3 linked regions of the Homo sapiens genome follow. The protein of the gene in region 3 interacts with the protein of the main gene of each other region in a pairwise test. Each region holds a gene or a part of one and is shown on either strand. Other genes may lie near its edges.

The links. Proteins that work in one complex are often made in the same cells at the same time.
Region 1: the proteins of PHYH (region 3) and OTUD7B interact in binary tests that used the Homo sapiens proteins (3 or more experiments, as listed by UniProt).
Region 2: the proteins of PHYH (region 3) and SPMIP4 interact in binary tests that used the Homo sapiens proteins (3 or more experiments, as listed by UniProt).

Annotation. Positions count from the first base shown.
Region 1 is NC_000001.11:150,007,708-150,014,759, reverse strand, and holds the start of OTUD7B (OTU domain-containing protein 7B), read left to right. Parts: upstream 1-4,033; 5' UTR 4,034-4,312; exon of another isoform or gene 4,313-7,052. UniProt on the Homo sapiens protein: Negative regulator of the non-canonical NF-kappa-B pathway that acts by mediating deubiquitination of TRAF3, an inhibitor of the NF-kappa-B pathway, thereby acting as a negative regulator of B-cell responses.
Region 2 is NC_000007.14:25,177,336-25,184,615, reverse strand, and holds the start of SPMIP4 (sperm-associated microtubule inner protein 4), read left to right. Parts: upstream 1-4,261; 5' UTR 4,262-4,954; intron 4,955-5,283; 5' UTR 5,284-5,307; coding exon 5,308-5,441; intron 5,442-6,984; exon of another isoform or gene 6,985-7,280. UniProt on the Homo sapiens protein: Microtubule inner protein (MIP) part of the dynein-decorated doublet microtubules (DMTs) in flagellum axoneme. May serve to reinforce and thus stabilize the microtubule structure in the sperm flagella.
Region 3 is NC_000010.11:13,290,050-13,297,072, reverse strand, and holds part of PHYH (phytanoyl-CoA dioxygenase, peroxisomal isoform a precursor), read left to right. Parts: intron 1-1,466; coding exon 1,467-1,577; intron 1,578-2,476; coding exon 2,477-2,645; intron 2,646-5,160; coding exon 5,161-5,242; coding exon of another isoform or gene 5,243-5,248; intron 5,249-7,023. UniProt on the Homo sapiens protein: Catalyzes the 2-hydroxylation of not only racemic phytanoyl-CoA and the isomers of 3-methylhexadecanoyl-CoA, but also a variety of other mono-branched 3-methylacyl-CoA esters (with a chain length of at least seven carbon atoms) and straight-chain acyl-CoA esters (with a chain length longer than four carbon atoms).

The DNA of each region.
Region 1 (7,052 bases), on a different chromosome or scaffold from region 3:
CTGATTTTTATCTTCAAGATTACGTTCGCCTGTTCCTGAATTTCACATAAATGGCTTTTTTTGCACCACAAATGAGTCCAAGATTCATTCATATTGTTGTGTTTAATGATCATTTGTTTTTTAAATTTGTACTCCATTGTAAGAACAATATAAGTAATTTTCTGTTGGTGAACATTTAAAATGTTCTAGTTTGGAGCTATTATGAATAAAGCTATAGTGAACATTCACGTATAAGTTTTTTGTGTACACATATATTTCATTTCTATTGGGTAAATTCCTAGGGAGTGGAATTACTAGGTTTTAGGGTAGGAATGTGTTTAACATTATGAAACTTCCCCTCATACAGCTTTTTTTTTTTTTTTTGAGACACTTTCTCTCTGTCACCCAGGCTGGAGTGCAGTGGTGCAATCATGGTTCCCTGAGCCTCGATCTCCCAGACTCAAGTGATCCTCCCACCTTAGCCTCCCTAGTAGCTGGGACCACAGGCATGCACCACCATGCCTGACTAATTTTTTTTTATTTTTGTAGAAATGGGATCTCCTTATATTGCCCAGGCTGGTCTCAAACTCCTGTGCTCAAGCCATTCTCCTGCCTTGGCCTCCCAAAGTGCTGGGATTTCAGGCAGGATCCACCATGCCTGGCTGAGCCCCTACTATATATATATATATATATATACACACACACACACACACACACACACATATATATACACACACATATATACGTATATATACGTATATATGTGTGTGTATATATATGTGTGTATATATGTGTGTGTATATATATGTGTGTGTGTGTGTGTGTGTGTGTGTATATATATATTATTTTTTTTTTTTTTTGAGACAGAGTCTCACTCTGTTGCCCGGCTGGAGTGCAGTGGCGCGATCTCGTCTCACTGCAAGCTCCGCCTCCCGAGTTCACGTCATTCTCCTGCTTCAGCCTCCCAAGTAGCTGGGACTACAGGCGCCCGCCACCTCGCCTGGCTAATTTTTTGTAGTTTTAGTAGAGACAGGGTTTCACCGGGTTAGCCAGGATGGTCTCAATCTCCTGACCTCATGATCCGCCTGCCTCAGCCTCCCAAAGTGCTGGTATTACAAGCGTGAGCCACTGCTCCCAGCCGAGCCCTAGATATTTTTTTAAAAAATATGGATTCATGGTCTTCAGTTCCAAGAAAGAATTCTGCGTCAGTCTGAGGTTCCTAGGCATGTATAATATGTAGTTTTTAAAAACTCCCCAGAACCAATGGTCTAAATTATATTGGTGGCGGTGGAAAGGAAGTTATTTTGGTTTGGTTTTCTTTTCCACCACAAAAGCATATAAATGTAAATAGTTTTTTTCCCTGCCTAGCTACAACCTTTCTCTGAACATTTTCCCCAACTCTAGCCATTAGCCCCAGTATTGAAATAGTCTCTCTTTTTAGTTTCTCTGGTGAAATGCAAAGCTCTGGTTTTTCTGCTCTTGCTTAAAGTGATGTAAAAGCTCAGGGAGCTCCTTGAAGCAGCCCTTAGAATTGCTAAGACGAGTAAACAAAAACAGATCTCTAGGGTGGAAAAGAACTTTGGACAGAATAGCAGTTGAGGGTGTGTGGCCCTGTGTACACCGGTAGGATTTTGTCTGGTGCTTTTACCTTTTTTCCCTTACTATTCTACCTAGCAGCAAGAAATAGTCAACTGTGTTCTGGCTGCTGCCAATGTCTACATTAAACAGCTGCCTCTGAGCATCCAACCTAGTGCCAGCCTAAATGGCTGCATATCACTAGAGAAGAAGCCTCTAGTTTCTACGCAGAGAAACTGAGACACAGGAATGGGAAGGGAGTCACTTAATGGATTAGGGACTGGTTGAGCTGGGACCAGAACCCAGGTGGCCTGGCTCCCAGCCCAGCTGACCACACTGCTACCCACACAGCCTGGGCTGACCAAAGACAAGCAGCCCATTGAGCAACTGCACAAACAACAATGAATGATGGATGGTCAGAGCAAGAAATAGGCACAAAGCAACTGTGACCCCATCACTTCCTGGCCCCTAAATTTCCAGGCAAGCCTATAAAGTGTGGTCACTTAAATGACTTTGACCAGCAACTTGGCCCAGCTTTCAAATCTGGAGACCTTCTATGGTCACTGCCAAAAGAAAAAGTCTTATATTGAGGGTAGAGTGCCTTTGAGCTCCACGCCTGGTTCTATTAAGTCTGTGGCAGTGGCGTTAAGATTAGAAAGACATATTTATATGGGTATAACCTGGTTCTGGACAGCTGTGGTGAAACAAGGCAACTTTCAGATTTTGAGGCTCCTCTTCTACAGATCTGTGCTCCCATCTCAGATTTAACTAGCAAAGGGTAGGTGTGGTCAGTGATTGTTGTCACAATCATTCCAGAATGTTTGTGTAGAGTTACTAGAATTTCAGTCTTTTCATTCTAAAGTATTTTCATCCCTCTCACCTTTCTAGAACGACACCCTTTTCAGCTCCTTTCCAACGGCTGTAGCCAACTGATTCTACCCCAGAGTCCCAAGCGTCCACCCCCGTACCCTTCCAGTTCAGTTCAGTTAGAGTTCAGTTAGAGTCAATTTAGGTGACCAAATCTCATCCTGCTCTCCTCCTTAAATTTACCACTAAACGGTAGCTAAAATTTGTGGTCCCTTATACGCTTGAAGCCCACGCCAAATGACTTTACTTGTCAACCTCTATTGTATGTCTTGGATATGCCCCCATGCAAGGCACTCTGACTTGTTTGGCCTTAGCATGTGTGGACAGCCTTGGGCCCAGCCCTAAATTTTCGATTGTAAACCCAGGTGTATCCCTAAGAGATATAGCTGTCTAGGAAGTTTCCCTGTTTCAGGTGTCAGTTTCCTATTCTGAGCTAGACAATTCTAAAATGCCTATGCCCCACGCCTCCCCTTTAGAAACTGAGGAAGAAGTGAGGGGAAAGAAAAGTTGACTAGAGTATTTGTTTTTACATAGGCATAATGGGCACAATTAGGCAATACATTATTTTGAATATGCAGACCAGGTGCTATAATGTTAGGAATCTGAATTAAAATTTCAAATGTCTTTTGTTAGAGTATAGCCGGGGTTGGCATCGTTTTGTGTTTGTCATAAAGAGGTATTTACTAAATGGCCTTTCTTTCTTGAAACAGTCCACACAGGCCTAATACTTATTCATTCATTCAACAAATATGGAAGGTCTACTATGTGACAAGGATGGCTTATTATGTTCTCATAGCCATAGCTCATTGTCACTCAGGTAGGACACATACAAGTTCTGCTACATATAATATAGTTTTATGTATTTTACTAAATTGTAAAACCTTTGATGTCTGGGATTATGTCTTGTTAATTTTTGTATCCCCCTGTATCACTGAGAGCAGTGATACACATCACAGGGATACAATACATATTTGAATTATGCCATAATGTTTTAAAAGACATAACAAACGCACTAGAAGACATAACAAACGCACTATGTAAGTTTTTTTTACTGTTAGCAGTCTAAAGCAGATGTATCAACAGGGTATCACTGTTATGCAAGTAAATAAATATTAAGTGTTTACAGAGAAGGATATGTTCACTTCAAGAGTGAAGGAACAAGAGAAATATATAATTGGGTGGAGACTGGTGTGGAAGAAGCTAATCTTCCTCCGGTCACTCCAGAATGATTGTGTAGAGTTACTAGAATGTCAGTCTTTTCATTCTGAAGTATTTTCATCTCTCTCACCTTTCTACAACTACTCCACCCCTTTCAGCTCCTTCCCAACGGCTGTAGCCAACTGATTCTACCCCAGAGTCCTAAGAGTCCACCCTGTACTCCTCCAACTCCTGTTCAAGAATGCTCCAGACCAGGAGCTTTAGGGACTCGGGTCGGGAAAACACGGGGTCACGCGCGGGGCAAGCGCCAAACTGGCCGCAGCCTGGGGAGCGGCGCTAAAGGCGGGGCTGCGACGGGGCGGAGCGGGAGGAGGCCCGGGGGCGGCCTGGGTGTCACCACCAACCCGCTCCGGCCGGAAACTGGCGCCTGTTTCCGGCCGGACAGCAGAAAGCCACCGATCCTGAACCAGCCGCCGGAGCCGGAGTGGCGACCGGGTGCGGAGTGGGCAAAAAGCCACTGGGGGAGGCCAGTCCCGATCAGTCCTTTCTGGCTCCAGCTCCAGATCCCGTGCGGAGCAACAGCTGCGGTCGCAGTCTCCACCACCGCCTCCACCTCCATCGCCGTCGGGGGAGGGGCCGGCCGGACCCCGGGGTCACTGCCGAGGAATGAAGAGAGGCGGCCGGGCCCCGCGCTCCGCCCCGGCCTAGGGCCTTGCCCCGGGAGCCCGCGAGGGTAACGGAGCCCCCCGTCCTGACACCGTCCCCCGTCTGCTCCCGCCCCTCCCGGCTTCTCAGACTCGCAAACTCTGCTCCTCAGATCGCCACTGTCCCCTTTCTCCTTTCTGAATCTGTTTCACCCGAAGCCATCTCCCCTCGGCACTCCTTTCTCGCCCTGACTGCTCCTTGCTTCGTCCCGATCTTTCCTCCTCCCTTTCACCTGCGTCCTGCGTTCCTACCCCGCGCTCTCCAGCTCCCGGCCTCCCTTCCTGAGCTGTGCTGGCCAGTTTGGACGGTCCCCCCTTGTCAGCTAGACTTTCGGGAGGGATGGTGGAGTTTTAAGGTGATTAAGATGCAGTGTATTATCCCCACAGTAGGATAAAGTTCATTTAAAATCTCAATATAATACTAAAATGAAAAGCAAATAAGCTTATTCTTCCTATTGATAGCCAAACTAAGGTGCATACAGTAATGGAGGAAAGGCGAGAAAAAGGTGTGTGTGTGTGTTTGTGTGTGTGTGTGAGAGAGGGAGAGAGACGGAGGTTGACGGATTCTAGGGCAGTCTTAAGAACTTTAGAAAAAAGAAAAGTTGCCATGAGCCGATGGAAACTTTAGAAGCTGATGATGAGTAAGCCGGGGGCTGCGTGATCTCACTCTTCTCATAATTACTAGGTTAACGGTGTGGCTCCGGTCGGGATGGAATGGGATTTGTTTACTGGGCCGGCGTATTTTTAGCTTGTCGGCTCACAAGGACCAGCGCTCAGAGTCTCTTTCTCCCCGCTCGTGGTAGTCTTTCTTGTCTAACCTAGGTGGCTTCTCTGGGCACAATAAAGATGTAAAAATTTGAAATTAGAAACTGACTGGTGGAATTTTATGGAAGAAGTTCCCCACAAACTTTTCAGGCAGCTTTTCACGAATGCAAAGCCTAGAATTAGCAGGACGTTGACTTTTATTTTCCTTATCTTTTTATACGTACTACGTAACGCTTTGCTTAGAAATTCACATGCTGCTAATTTTTCAGTCTTTGGCCTCTAGTACTGTATATTTAGGAGATTTTTGAGGAGGCTGGATCCCTTTGTCTTTCAGAATCTATTTCAAAGGTGGAAAAGGACAGAGTAGAGAAAGAGGTGGCGGTAAGACTGGCTCCAAAGAGTTGCTAACCCCTAAATATTTAAAAAAGTTTCTATGCTATGTAACTTCTGAAAACATGTAGAAAATTTTCTTCCTACTAAATGAGATTGCATTCCTGATGGGGAGAAGACTTCAGGGACGGAAGCTGGGTGGCTAGGGAGAATCAGAGGTAGTTAAATATTTGCTGTGTATAACTTACAAATACATTATGCGCAAACAATGAAGAATTAATTATACGCTTTGTCTTCATTGTTTTTCAAGTAGTTCTTTTAACGTTCAGTAACCAACCTGCTGTGCTAGTCTATTGATATTTTGAAGGCTGAACAAAACTGTAAAATAAATGAACTTGATGTTGCTCCTCTGCAGGCTGAATACCCCCGACCGTTCTAATTTCCACTATTGACCCAGCTTGCCTCAGAGCACCTCCCTGACAAAGTGGCCAGTTACTATGTACTTAGAGATTGCAAATCAATGCAAATATTAGCTCATACTAGGAATAATTAAGAAGGTAAATATGCTGAAAACATATATTCCAAAACCAAAATAGATTTTTTCGATTTTACCCTCATTTTTGATTATCACCACCTTTCTGCCAATAATTATCCGTTAACATGAATAATTTAGAATTGAACAGATATCTGCTTTGGACATTACACTTTCAAGATAGAAGGAAAGATGGAAGGAAGATAGTGCCAAACTAATTTTTTATTGTCATTGCCTTATTTGACTTATTCCTTGCTTTTAATACTGAAGACTCCCTCGGAAAAAAATGTAAAACTTTGCCAAAGCAAGAGCTGGCTATCTACTGACTTGTATAAGGCCCGGTGACTGGTAATGAATGCTAATCATTAGGTGGCCTTTAGTGGCCTTATGTTGCCAACAACTTGGAAAATTTCCCAAAGCTTTATTTGTTTAATCTTTCTTTTGAGACCCCTATTTAAAAAACGACTTAATTTGGAGACGAAAATCTAATTTTTAAAAACCACATACACCTTTCCCAGAATCTGTTGATGATCAATAATTGTTTTGATCTGTGTGAGTTGATTGGTGCCAATATTAGTGATGATATCTGGGTAAATTCTATTTATATCTGCATCTAGCAACTCCCTAAGTTGAACTGCATACTTTATTCCAGGGCATGGGGATCAAAGGGGTTGAAGAAGCCTAGGAATGAGTGGAGAGCTGCCTGGTAGTCCACCACTATTCCTAGTTCTCAGGAGGCTTTATTTGCAATTTTGAGATTCAATGTATGTAACCAAAATAAGTATTCTGATTGTTATGAGGGCACTAAGTGCCACTTGTCAAAGTTTTGGAGCTCCTGAGTATCTTAAGCATGCTAAAAGACACTGGCCATTATAGTGTGGGTGTATGTGTGTATGAGTAGCACTCTCCTTACCCTAAACACTCATCCCACCAAAGGGAAAATCCTTAAACAGCGCTTTGAAATGTGACCTCAGCAGTATCTTTCCTATGGGAACTTAGGAGCTGTGGAATAGCAGACTGTGGAATCTTTTTTGTAGCCTCTGATAAATTCAGGTAATTAAAAATTTGTGTAACTGGAAGATAGATACAGGGCAGTTTTTCTCATGAATGCCTGAATTCAGTTGACTTTTTAATATAATAGA
Region 2 (7,280 bases), on a different chromosome or scaffold from region 3:
TGACCACTGAGTCTTCTGAGCAGAGGTTTAAGATTAGAGAGAAAAAGGCTACCCAGAAGGAACTCAAATTCATGGGACAAAATGTTAGAATATCCATGTAGGAAGATGCAAAGAAAGATAAAAGGAAAGATGCCAGGGAGGCCACAAGGACAAACAACTGCATGTAACCAAGGGCACATGGCCGGGTCACCTCGCTAAAGGGTCCTGATGATCATGTTTCTAAATAGAAGAACCTTACATTGCTTTTCAGACATTTCCAAGGGAATGATATCAGAAGCACAAGAGTCTTGGTTAGGTGACCATGGACCCCTACAGCAAGAGTGCTGGCCCCAGTCGAGCACTTACCTCACTGATTATGACTCTCCATGGCTCCATGTCCCCATAGATTGTAGGTGCTAGGACAACCCCTGATGCATTCTAGGTAACTGTTTACTAAATAGCACATTTTATAAATGTGTGCATCAACGTCACTTCAGTGTTCACTACTAAATGACCACCTAGTTCCTTAGCTACTCAAGGCAAAAAAAAAATTATTATTGTTTTTCACACAGTAAATTTTTTATTGGAGGAGGAGAACATCTAAAATCTACATTCTTAGAAAAATTTTAGTATGCAATACAATATTATGAATATTATAATCCTTGTGCTGCACATTACATTTCTAGGCTTATTCAATTGATCATAGTTGACATGACTACAACCATAAAGACTGTTGAGATTACAATGCTCTTTAAAAATAACCCTCTTCAAGAAAAAAATTGAAATGACACCCACAAAAAAGCTGATTGCGTTTTTATAATAAACAACTATGAAAGAAAGAAAATATGTTTTGAGAAGAATTTAAAGTACTGAACTTAGGTTAAATTATTTAGTACCAAAAAAGTATTAAAGTGTAATTTAACTCATTTGTAGTTTAAAGTCAGCAGAATATACATACTTTTAATTGTCATCCTACTAAGAAGATACATATACTGAAATCAACAAGGCTTTAAGTTTTTCAATTTTTAAAGATGCATATTTTAACGTTACTGAGACACTTTCCAACACATCTTCTAAGCAAGGCACCAGACTCCAAATTGTTTTTTCATGTAAAAAATATTCACTGGGCCGGGTGCATGACTCACGCCTGTAATCCCAGCACTTTGGGAGGCCAAAGCAGACGGATCACCTAAGGTCAGGAGTCTGAGACCAGCCTAGCCAATATGGCAAAACCCCGTCTCTACTAAAAATACAAAAAATTAGCCAGGCGTGGTGGCGAGCACTCGTAATCCCAACTACTTGGGAGGCTGAGGCAGGAGAATTGTTTGAACCGGGGAGGCGGAGGTTGCAGTGAGCCAAAATCACACCATTGTACTCCAGCCTGGGCAACAGAGACTCTGTTTCAAAAAGAAAAAAAAAATCATGTTCCTGGTCTCTTCATTCATTTTACTGGTCTCTATAACAGACTTAAAAGAAAGGTTATAGACTGTAATTCATGCTTTATGTTATTATCTACCTCCTACTTATTCTTTACCTGAAGGTGAAAGGTCTAACTGTGATTTGGAATTGTCATCAACCCACAGTATTCTAAGCATATATTATTTTCATTGCCAAATTTCATCTTCCCTGCTTGAAGGATTACTAGCAAAATGAGGTGGTGACAAGATCAACATGTGAGAAGTCAAAAGAAGGCAATCTGAGGCTACTGGCCCCCTGGCCATGTTATACCTAAGAAATTCGTCACTTGAGCATCCCTGGGTAGGAGGCTACTTTGTGTTGTTGAGATCACATCCTGGCTGAGATGGAGTGAGTTAAATCACAAAAGCTAAGAGTAACGAGTGTTGGTCAAACAAATAGACCCAATCCTGATATCCCTGAAAATTTCAGATGGAGAAGCATTTTCAAAGAAAACAATTGTTTTACAACGATCTGACAATGAATTTTTCTTGCCGGTACATTTTATTTGAAAAACGATAAAGATAAAAATAATTACATTTATCTGCCTTTTACACTCATCTGACCTAAAATAAAATTTCAAATCCCCTAGAACCTGGAGGCTATCACATGGCATATCCTGATCATTCAACCTGGAGTTGACACACTTTCTCCGGTGTCACTACCATCCATGTACATACATGGCTAGTGATGCATCTTCATCAGATGCCTCTGATTAAATCTATCATGCTCAGTTATTCCTCCCAGGAAGAATCAAGCCATGGGAAAATAGGACTAAGGTTGAGGATGAGAAAAAGGTGAAGTATAGAAAGTACTGGAAGACTGGGGACATGAAATGGGCTGGGGAGACAAGGAATTTAATGGGAGATCCTGAACACAGAGGAGCAGAAAAGGGGCAAAAGCTTACAATGAACTACCAGAAATTGGAGGGGAAATAAAGATGTCAAAGATAAAAGCCAGTTTCACCTAATACACAACTCTGTCTCCAGCAGGATCTATTCCTCTAGGCTTAGTGGGTGGTAACTACTGGAAGGTCGGCAGAGGTGCAGGAACTAAGAAATAAACCAAGACTACAAAATTACCACTGTGCCTACTTCAATACACCTTTCTTCCCCCACTCCAGGTAACACTCACATAGAAGGCACAGCACAAAATGAATGCCCACTGGTTGGTTAGTAGAAAGTTGTAAAGTAGGCAGAGAATAGCAAAGGCACCATCATACTGTTACCAAGCAAAGGAGGCTCGCTGCCCGAGGCACTAGAAGTCAATACTATAACACTGGGTTTTTGATAAAATAAAAACTTTTATTGCATGTCAACCAACAAAGAAATAGGAAGTCCAGCTCAAATCTGTCTCCCTGTGCTGGCTTTAGGACAATTATTTTATTAGAAATGGTTTTGAGTGTGGATTCTGGGATTAGCAGGTGCTTGGTGGAAGGAAAGAGGAAGTCTGGAAAGTCCTTGCGCATGTGCTCTTATTTCTTCATGCTACCTAAGGGTTCCACGTGCAAATTCAGTGAGGAGTTAGTATGAAACATGGCAGTAGAAATTCAGCTGTAAGGTCAGCAAGCTGGATCTGTGCAGACTCTAGTTGGCCTTATATGTTCCAGTGGATTTCAGCCAGTTTTATTAACCTACAAGCCCAGGCATTTCAGCATTTCAGCAATTTGTTTCTTTTATCTGCCATCCTGTAAACTCAAGAATTTCTATGACTGTTTTCTTTAACTCTTTGGCACACAGTTTCAACGCCCTTCTTCTCAGAGGTGGTCATTCTCACCCTCACCTTCTGGTTCCTGCAGGCTCATTTCTAGCCTCCCACACTGTATTAGTCTTTTCTCACAATGCTGTAAAGAACTGCCCAAGACTGGGTAATTTATAAACGAAGGAGGTTTAGTTGACTCACAATCTCACATGGCTGCGGAGGCCTCAGGAAACTTACAATCATGGCAGAAGGCCACGGAGAAGCAGTTACCTTCTCCACAAGGGGGCAGGAAGGAAAAGTGCTGGGAGAAGGGAGAAGAGCCTCTTATAAAACCATCAGATCTCGTGAGAATTCACTCGCTATTACGAGAACAGCATGGGGGAAACTGCCCCCATGATCCAATTACTTCCACCTGGTCTCTCCTTTGACAAGCGGGGATTATGGGTATTACAATTCAAGATGAGATTTGAGTGGGGACACAAAGCCTAACCATATCACACATATACACACAACCTAACCTCCTCACATCCCATTCCTTGATGGGGTGGCAGGTGGCGAGGGGGGGGTGACATCCCTTATTGTCAGCCATCACAGGAACTCATGACCCTGTAGGTGCAGATTCATGGCTCACATTTGTATCTTTTGGGGAAAACTGAGGTAATCAAGGTGGGGCTAGGCCCTGGGGACGAGGCAAGTAAAGGACTTTGCCATGTCCGCACCCACCAGGGAAGGAGCAGAGACTCTGTTAGGGCGCCATGCCAGGGGCTGCAGTTTCAGAATCCTGCAGACTCCACCCTCTATCTGGCCACACTGTCCCCAATTTTTGCGAGGTGACCTGGGGAGGGAGGACAGGTCGGATGCTCCGACCTCACCAGGGACTCCACTGGACCGGAGCTCTTCCTCCTCCGCCCAGTCCACATGAGAGAGCTCCCTGGCCGGCCCTGAGACAGCTCCAGACCTGGTAGCCCTGGAAAAAGAAACTGGTATCGCCATCGCCGCCGCCGCTAGAGGGCGCCTGGGGGCGGGGCGCGGGTGGGGCAAGGCGGGGTCCGACTGGAGGCAGGGCGGTGAGCCGAGAGGGGCGGGGCAAGGGACCGGGAGGCGGGGCCAGGGGTCGCAAGGCGGAAGAGCCCCTCTCGCCTCCGACCCGGCGCCTCGCACTCCGTTCACTCTCGGTTCCTCTTCGCATTCTTGCCAGTCCCGTAGCGCTGGGCTGGTTTCCTCCGAGGTCTCTAAGAGCCTCCTACTGCGCCCCGCTCGCCGCCCGGAAGCCCCCAGCCCCTCAAGGACGCATCACCTAATGCCGCGGTCACGGCCACCGTCACAAGCGCCCCCAGCCCCACCCCACCCCGGCCTGCCCGCCGTCCTTCTCCCGCCCCCGCCCCTGCCTGCCAGCTCCACCGGGCCGTAGGTGCGGACGACCTCAAAATTCCTCGGCCCGCGAAGGCCGCCAGCTGCGGGGAGGGGAGGGGAGGCGCGGTCCCGCAGCGCCCCCAGGCTCATGTCCCAGGTATGTCCAGACCCCCGAGGCACCGCTTGCAGGGCAGTGACAGCCCGTGAGGCTCGGCCTCGACCCCTGGCACCCTTGGTCCCAGCTACGCCGGCTCCTGGCCTTCCCCCAAGTCCGAGAGAGAGGTGGGATTCTCCCCGACGCAGTTGGAAACCGGGAATCCCCTTTAGGGTCCCGTTCGTGCTGCACTACTGACTCCACCATCTGCAAAGGGATTCTTGTCCAGAATCCCCGAAGGCTTTAGGACAGCGCTTATTTTGTTGAATGAAGAGTCTCTAATTTTCGGAAAGACCACAGGCTAAAAGTCAAGTGAGTTTTCTTGAATAGTTATAGTTAAATTTAAGGCAGGAATTGAATGTCAGTTGATGGCCACAAAGTAGCGGACTGGTACGAACCTACTGGATGATCATTCTGGTGACTACTTGGAGGCACCGTCCACTTTGTGGATTTGTTTCAGTTGAAATTTATTTCCATAGAACTTATTTAGGTCTCTATTTATTACTGATTTGACGGCTTTCAGTGCAGAGGGAAGCCTGTGACGTCTGTGCAGCGTCAGGTTGAACAATTTAGCAGTGTAAAATGTGTTTTCTGCCTGCCTTGACTCGACAAGCCAAATGTGCCCTCCTTTTCTTTTCCAGGTTGTGCCTTTTTAGCCAAGAAGCATGGAAGTCATTCACGGCAGGCCCTACTGTTGCAGGGAGCTTGAAGGAGCTGACATACTGTCCAACACCTTTTACTCTAATGAATTGCACAACCCCCTCCAGACGGTTACTCGCCCAACTGCCTCAGAGGACAGGTAAAACAAAAACTAGAAAAAGCAAACAAGAAAAAGCAGTTTTAATGTATTCGTGTATTTTATTATGTGAGGAAAAACATTTATTGTTCTGGGGCTCTTCTGTTTCTTGTTTGTTTGTTTGTTTGTTTGTTTTTGAGACGGTGTCTCGCTCTGTCGCCCAGGCTGGAGTGTAGTGGTGCGATCTCGGCTCACTGGGACCTCTGCCTCCCAGGTTCAGGTGATTCTCCTGCCTCACCCTCCAGAGTAGCTGGGATTACAGGCATGCACCACCATGCCCAGCTAATATTTTTGCATTTTTAGTAGAGACAGGGTTTCACTATGTTGGCCAGGCTGTTCTCAAACTCCTGACCTCAAATGATCCACCCACCTCGGCCTCCCAAAGTGCTGGGATTACAGGCGTGACCACTGCGCCGGGCCGGGGCTCTTCTGCTTATCATATAATAGGGAAGGCAAAACGTGGCAATTATCTGAACCTTCAAGTGTCTGTAAGGAACTCGAGAAGTAAGTGGCTGTCTACTATAAAAGCCACACATCAAATTCATCCACTACATTCTAAAATCTTAGAATGGTCCGTTCCTTCATTGGGAAATTAATATGTTGTAAGCAAAGACTTTTATAAATAGTACTGTATTGGTTCCCTAACATGCCCTTCTACCATCTGCCCAAAAATACTCCCAGAATTTGCTGCTTATACTTGTGTAAATTTTTGCTTCACCAAATTCCCTGTAACACATTAATTATACATTATGATTTAATTTATGAAAAGCAGTTTGGTGATTTCTCAAAGAACTCAAAACAGAATTACCATTTGACCCAGCAATCCCATTATTGGATTCTAAGTTGTTCTTATAAGTTGTTCTATCAAAGGAATATAAGTTGTTCTACCATAAAGACACATGCACAAGTATGTTCATCACAGCACTATTCACAATAGCAAAGACATGGAATCAGCATAAATGACCATCAGTGGTTGACTGGATAAAGAAAACATGGTACATATACACCATGGAATACTATGCAGCCATAAAAAAACGAGATCATGTCCTTTGCAGCAACGTGGATGGAGCTGGAGGCCATTATTCTAAAGCAAACTAACACGGGAACAGAAAACCAAATATCACCTATTCTGACTTATAAGTGGGAGCTAAACATTGAGTACACATGGAGACAAAGAAGGGAACCACAGACACCAAGGCCTACTTGAGGGTGGAGAGAGGGAGGAAGGTGAGGATCAGAAAACTACCTCTTGGGTACTATGCTTATCACCTGGGTGACAAAATAATTTGTACACTGAACCACTGCAACATGCAATTTACCTGTATAATGAACCTGCATATGTCCCCCTGAACCTAGAAAAAAAGTTTAAAAAAAAAAATTACAATGAAAATAATTGCACCTATCTAGTGATTACTGTGTGTCAGCACTCTACCAAATGCTTTGTATGTAGTAATTCTTTTAATCCTCATGACAACCCTATAAGTACTACTGTTATCTGCATTTTACATATGAAATAACAGATACACACAAGTAATTTGCCAAGATCTTAGTGTCAGCATTTCCTGTATTGTATTTACTTGAATCATTTTGAGAAAAGGAAAAGGAAAAAACACCTCAAAACACCTGGACAGTGAAAAAATAGCCTGAGTGGTTGTCTACTTGTTTTGTGTTTTTTGTTTTTTTGTTTTTTTTTTATTAGACGGAGTCTCACTCTGTTGCCAGGCTGGAGTGCAGTGGCACAATCTCGGCTTACTGCAACCTCCGCCTCCTGGGTTCAAGCAATTCTCCTGCCTCAGCCTCCTGAGTAGCTGGGACTACAGGCACACACCACCTCGCCCAGCT
Region 3 (7,023 bases):
CTTTTCTTTTTTTCATATAGTGTCTTGGTTTTACATAATTGTAATAATATTTTATTATAATAAGCATTGTCCATACTATTTTTTATTTTATTATATTTTATTATATTTTATTTTATTTTGAGACCGAGTCTGGCTCTGTCGCCCAGGCTGGAGTGCAGTGGTGCCATCTTGCTTCACTGCAAGCTCCGCCTCCCGGGTTCACGCCATTCTCCTGCCTCAGCCTCTCCAGTAGCTGGACTACAGGCGCCAGACACCATGCCGGGCTAATTTTTTGCATTTTTAGTAGAGGCGGGTTTCACCGTGTTAGCCAGGATGGTCCCGATCTGACCTCGTGATCCGCCCACCTCAGCCTCCCAAAGCTAGGATTACAGGCATGAGCCACTGTGCCCGCCATCCATACTATTATATGGCCTTAATTTTTAATGTCTGAGTCATATTCCACTGAGTGAACATAGTGTCACTAGTTAATTTTTCTTCCACTAATGCACTTTTTTTTTTTTTTTTTTTTCTGAGATGGAGCCTTGCTCTGTCACCCAGGCTGGAGTGCACTGGTGCAATCCTGGCTCACTGCAATCTCCACCCCCACAGGTTCTAGCGATTCTCCTGCCTCATCCTCTTGAGTAGCTGGGATTACAGGCACGCTAATTTTTGTATTTTTAGTAGAGATGGGGTTTCATCATGTGAGTCAGGCTGGTCTCGAACTCCCGACCTCAGGTGATCCACCTGCCTCAGCCTCCCAAAAAGCTGGGATTACAGGCATGAGCCACTGTGCCCGGCCCACTAATGCACTTGTTTTGGTGACATAAAGCGTAAGTTTTCAGATTATTTCCTTGGTCTTAGAAATGCTGAATTGAAGAGCATGAACGTTTCCTAGGTTCTTGTTTTTGTCTTTGTTTTTGTTTTTTGAGACGGAGTCTGGCTCTGTCGCCCAGGCTGGAGTGCAGTGCCATGATCAGAGCTCACTGCAACCTCCGCCTCCCAAGTTCAAGCGATTTTCCTGCCTCAACCTCCCGGGTAGCTGGGATTACAGGTGCCCACTACCATGCCTGGCTAAACTTTGTGTTTTCAGTAAACATGGGGTTTCACCATGTTGGTCAGGTTCGTCTCAGACTCCTGACCTCAGGCGATCCACCTGCCTCGGCCTCCCAAAGTGCTGGGATTATAGGCATGAGCCCCCACGCCTAGCCTCAGGTTCTTGATACATATTTTTAGGATGTAATTTAAATTTTTTTTTTTTTTTTGAGACAGGGTCTCACTCTGTCGCCCATGCTGGAGTGGAGTGGCACAACCAGTATTTTTTGTAGAGACAGGGTTTCATCATGTTGCCTGGGCTAGTCTCAAACTCCTGACCTCAAGTGATCCACTTGCCTCGGCCCGCTAAAGTGCTAGTATTAGAGGTGTGAGCCATTGTGCCTAGCCTGTAATTTAAAAATGTAACTTATTTTGGGATTCTTTTTCTCCTTTAGGTATACTCTGGATAATAACGTTCTAACCCTGGAACAGAGAAAATTTTATGAAGAAAATGGGTTTCTAGTAATCAAAAATCTTGTACCTGATGCCGATATTCAACGCTTTCGGTACAGTAACACTATTTGTTATTTTACAATAGTATGTATTGTGTGCATGTAATGAGAATACAAGGTGGATTCGCTCCTGGCTTTACAGATGTTTTTTAATGATTTGGTTTGTTGGGAAGTGTTTAGAAGCATGGGCTCTGGTGCCAGACTGGCTTTTTATTTTTTATAGAGAAAGGTTCTCACTCTGTTGTGTAGGCTGAGTGCAGTGGTGCGATCATAGCTTACTGCGGCCTCAAGTTCCTGGGCTCAAGCAATCCTCTTGCCTCAGCCTCCTGAGTAGCTGGGACCACAGTTGTGCACCACCATACCCAGCTAATTTTTTATTTCTTTGTTTTTAGAGACAGGGAGTCTCACTATGTTGCCCAGGCTGGTCTTGAACTCCTGGCCTCACCCTCCTGAGTTGCTGGGATTACAGTCGGGAGCCACCATGCCTGGGCTTCAGTCTCAGCTCCACCACTTAATATCATGTGTCCTGGGGCAATTTACTTCACATCCCATGCCTCTGTTTCCTCATCTGTAAAATGGGGATAATAATAGCACTTATGTCCTAGTGTTGTTATTAGGACTAAATACGGTGAAATATATGGAAACCACTTTGAAGAGAGCTGGGCACATGGTAAGTGTTACAGAAATGTTTGCTGTTATTATTATTACAATGTAACCAAATTATAAAAAGACTTCCCTACTGGTATGCTAAACTAGGGAATAATTTAATTCTGGGAATGGATTCTAGCCAGACAGTTTCTCCTCCCTTTCATTGGAATTATTCTACCTCAAGCTGGAGGCCAACTTAGTGCAGAGAAACCACCCCTCAAGTCTGCAACCCTTTCCACAGAGGAGGGCAGGGCAGGTGCTTGGAGCCAGCGGTAACGACATCATTTGCAAATTAAATTTTCTAGGAATGAGTTTGAAAAAATCTGCAGAAAGGAGGTGAAACCATTAGGATTAACAGTAATGAGAGATGTGACCATTTCGAAATCCGAATATGCTCCAAGTGAGAAGATGATCACGAAGGTCCAGGATTTCCAGGAAGATAAGGAGCTCTTCAGATACTGCACTCTCCCCGAGGTCAGAGACCACCCTTGCTTTGCGTCGGCTTAATTGCCAGTGTGTATGTCTGCCTGTAAAACCCGCTGATTTGGCCGGGCGCAGTGGCTCACTCCTGTAATCCGAGCACTGTGGGAGGCTGAGGCAGGTGGATCGCTTGATCCCAGGAACCACTGCTCTTAGAGCTGGATATGGAAAGGAGTTGAATTGAGTAAAATCAGTGGGTTTTATTTTGTTTTCTTTTCTGGAGACAGAGTCTCGCTCTGTTGCCCACGCTGGAGTGCAGTGGTGCGATCTCGGCTCACTGCAACCTCTTCCTCCCAGGTTCAAGTGATTATCCTGCCCCAGCCTCCCAAGTAGCTAGGTTTACAGGTGCCTGCCACCACACCTGGCTAATTTTTGTATTTTTAGTAGAGAAAGGGTTTCACCATATTGCTCAGGCTGGTCTCGAACTTCTGACCTCGTGATCCACCCACCTCGGCCTCCCAAAGTGCTGGGATTACAGGCATGAGTCACTGCGCCTGGCCAGTGTCCTACATTTCTGAAGAATGGGACCAGTATCTGGTGGTCTATGCCATGATTTTAGGAGGTATAAATTATTTTAATAGATATTTATTTTTAAATGTATTGGAAAAAAACTCAACAGTCTACCAAACTCATGATTTCAAAAATGTTGTTAATTAGGACAAGATTAAATAAAAAGGCCAGGCGAAGTGGCACTTTGGAAGGCTGAAACAGGAGAATCACTTGAGGCCAGGTGTTCAAGACCAGTCTGGCAACATAGTGAGACCATTGTCTATATTGGAAAAAAAGAAAAAAACAAAGATTGAATAAGAGAAGTGAGCTAACTGCCGGGCGCGGTGGCTCATGCCTGTAATCCCAGCACTTTGGGAGGCCGAGGTGGGCAGATCACGAGGTCAGAAGTTTGAGACCAGCCTGAGACACATGGTGAAACCCAGTCTCTACTAAAAATACAAAAATTAGCTGGGCATGGTGGCGGGCGCCTGTAATCCCAACTACTCAGTAGGCTGAGGCAGGAGAATCGCTTAAACCCGGGAGGCAGAGGTTGCAGTGAGCCGAGATCATGTCATTGCACCTAGCCTGGGCAACAGAGCGAGACTCCATCTCAAAAAAAACAAAAACAAAAACAAAAAACAAAAAACAAGTGAGCTAACTAAGGGTAGGGAAATCATTGGCTAAATAACAGTACAAGTTATGTCAGAAGTTGTGAGGATGGCTCTTGAATGGCTGGCATTTAGAAAATCCCAGCCTAGATGAATACAAAAAAATACCAGGCTTTATAAAAAGCAAGTGTGTGCCTGACTGCTAGGCTTTTAATAACCTTTCCAGGGTTTCATACTCAAATTGCCAATATTCCTTATACACAAGAGATCAAAAAGTGAGGAAGCAGTAGAAGGTGGCTTATTTTTTGGAGTCTTTTTTTTGCAGAATCAAAATTTGAATATCATGGGTTGTTTTATTTTCTTCTTCTTCTTCTTTTTTTTTTTTTTTTTTGAGACAGAGTCTCACTCTTGTTGCCCAGGCTGGACTGCAGTGGTATGATCTCAGCTCACTGCAACCTCTGCCTCCTGGGTTCAAGTGATTCTCCTGCCTCAGCTTCCCAAGTAGCTGGGATTACCGACGTGTGCCACCATGCCCGGCGAATTTTTGTATTTTTAGTAGAGATATGGTTTTGCCATGTTGGCCAAGCTGGTTTTGAACTCCTGACCTCAAGTGATCCGCCCGCCTCGGCCACCCAAAGTGCTAGGATTACAGGTGTGCGCTAACGCACCCGACCTCAGTGTTGAGCCCTTTCTGCTTTTTCCCTCTCCGTTGCTGGGTTCTGTACACAAGGTAGCGGCAGCCCAGCTCCCAGGCCCCACGACTAAACCAGCTCTCCCTGTCACGGTTCCCCATGTTAGCCTTTTCTTCATAATGCAGTGTCCCTCGGCCACTCTGACCCATGTCATTACTGGGTTAACATTTTTCATCTAACTCCTGGGACCTGCTTTGCTTGTTCACTCTTGCTTCCCCATTTCCCGTCACCTCCTGGTTCCCAGATCTCAGTAATGAGTTGTCAAGTGCCAAGCGTCCCCGATTGTCAAATGTCCTCCAAGCCACCATTCTGCTTTCTTCCGGGCTATTCATGACAGCTGTGAATTGTATGGGACTCTTCGTATGCAGAGGCTCCAATGAGGAAGAGGAAACTGCCCTCCCACTGAGCAACCTTCTGTTGCTTGGGTTGACAAGAAAGCTATATTAATATCTCATCGGAACTCCTATGTTTCTTGTAGAGAAAAAATGGTTTCATTCCCAGCTAGCTCAGAAAAAGCCCATTTCATTCCGTGTTATAGATTTAGAATGATTTCCAATGGCTGGGTTTTTCATGCTTTGTTTGCAATGTTGTGAAATACCGCTTGGTTCTTAAACTATTGCCTTCTTGGTTCTTGTGTGGATAGCTACTGTACTTTGTACCAGTTGTCAATACTTCTGATTTCCCACAAGGTTTGTTTTTGTTTTTTTTTTGCTTTCTTAGATTCTGAAATATGTGGAGTGCTTCACTGGACCTAATATTATGGCCATGCACACAATGTTGATAAACAAACCTCCAGATTCTGGTAATTGTAAGGGAGAAGAAAAAAAAATGGTTTCATTAAAATGTGTAAGGTTGGCTGGGTGCAGTAACTCATGCCTGTAATCCCAGCATTTTAGGAGACCAAGGGAGGAAGATCTCTGAGGCCAGGAGTTTGAGAGTGGCCTGGGCAACATAGTGAGGCTCTGTCTCTAAAAATAAAATTTAAAAATATCCAGGCATGGTGGTATGCACTTGTAGTCCCTGCTATTGGAAGGCTGAGGTGGGAGGATCACTTGAGCCCAGGAGTTGAAGGCTGCAGTGAACCTATAATGGCATGCTCTCCAGCCTGCGTGACACAGTGAGACCCTATCTCTACATAATAAATAAAACAAAACAAAACAAAATAATAAAATAGCTGATGTCTAACTGTAATCATGTGTACAACTGTCAAACTTTGGATAAGGAAGTCTTAAAATAACTTACACTATAACAACAGTGAAATGTGGTAATTATTTCAGATATTAACTGTAGGACTGTTGCTGAATTTTCAGATGACTGGCTCCCCAAAAATGCAGTTTAACCGACATAACTGTTCATATATCAAAGGTTCCTGCCATTCGACGTCTCTAAGCTTGATCAGCTCTTTTTAGCTGTGATAGTGTGGATTCTTGCATTCCTGATAGGAAGACATTATTATTACTAACACAATTAAAATTGTTACTATGAGTCACAAACTATAGTGGTCTTTTTTTTTTTTTTTTTTTTTTTTGAGATGGAGTTTTGCTCTTGTTGCCCAGGCTGGAGTGCGATAGCGCGATCTTGGCTCACTGCAACCCCCACCTCCCAGGTTCAAACAATTCCTGATTCTCCTGCCTCAGTCTCCCAAGTAACTGGGATTACAGGCATGTGCCACCAAGCCTGGCTAATTTTTGTACTTTTAGTAGAGACAGGGTTTCGCCATGTTGGTCAGGCTGGTCTCGAACTCCTGACTTCAGATGATCCACCTGCCTTGGCCTCCCAAAGTGCTGGGATTACAGGTGTGAGCCACCGCGCCCAGCCTATAGTTGTCTTTAAAATGTCTTGTGCTTGCTAAAATGTAGAATCTAAGACCTCATTGGCAGACAGACTGATTGAGAAATATAACCCAGGTTTCTGTATTTTAATAACCTTCCTCAAGCTGGGCGTGGATGTGCACCTGTGGTCCCAACTACTCAGGAGGCTGCGGGGGGAGGATCGCTGGAGCCCAGGAGTTCAAGTCCAGAGATTGTAGTGCAGATCACTTGGACTACACTGGGAAATTCCTCTGTGCCTGCAGTAAAAATCAGCCATGAGAGAGTCCCCCTATCCTTTCTGCCTTTTCTTCCTTCTGATCTGCAGGAGGGGTTTATGTGATAGAAGGCAGCTTAGCATTACCAGGTCTCTCCCTCCTTGAGGAGAGCAGGTGTTCGGGAGCCACACTCAGGGAGCAAACCAGGGGAAAATGTCAGTGTGGTCATGGGCACTCCGACTGGACATGGAATGACTATAGTTGTGGGGGGTGAGGACCTCTTAGATAACTTTTTTTATTTTTATTTTTTTTGAAATGGAGTCTTGCTCTGTTGCCCAGGCTGGAGTGCAGTGGCTCAATCTCGGCTTACTGCAACCTCTGCCTCTGGGGTTTGAGTGATTCTCCTGCCTCATCCTCCTGAATAGCTGGGATTACAGGTGCCCACCACCACACCCAGCTAATTTTTTTTTTTTTTTTTTTTTTTTTTTTTTGGTATTTTTAGTAGAGACAGGGTTTCACCATGTTGGTCAGGCTGGTCTCGAACTCCTGACCTCAGG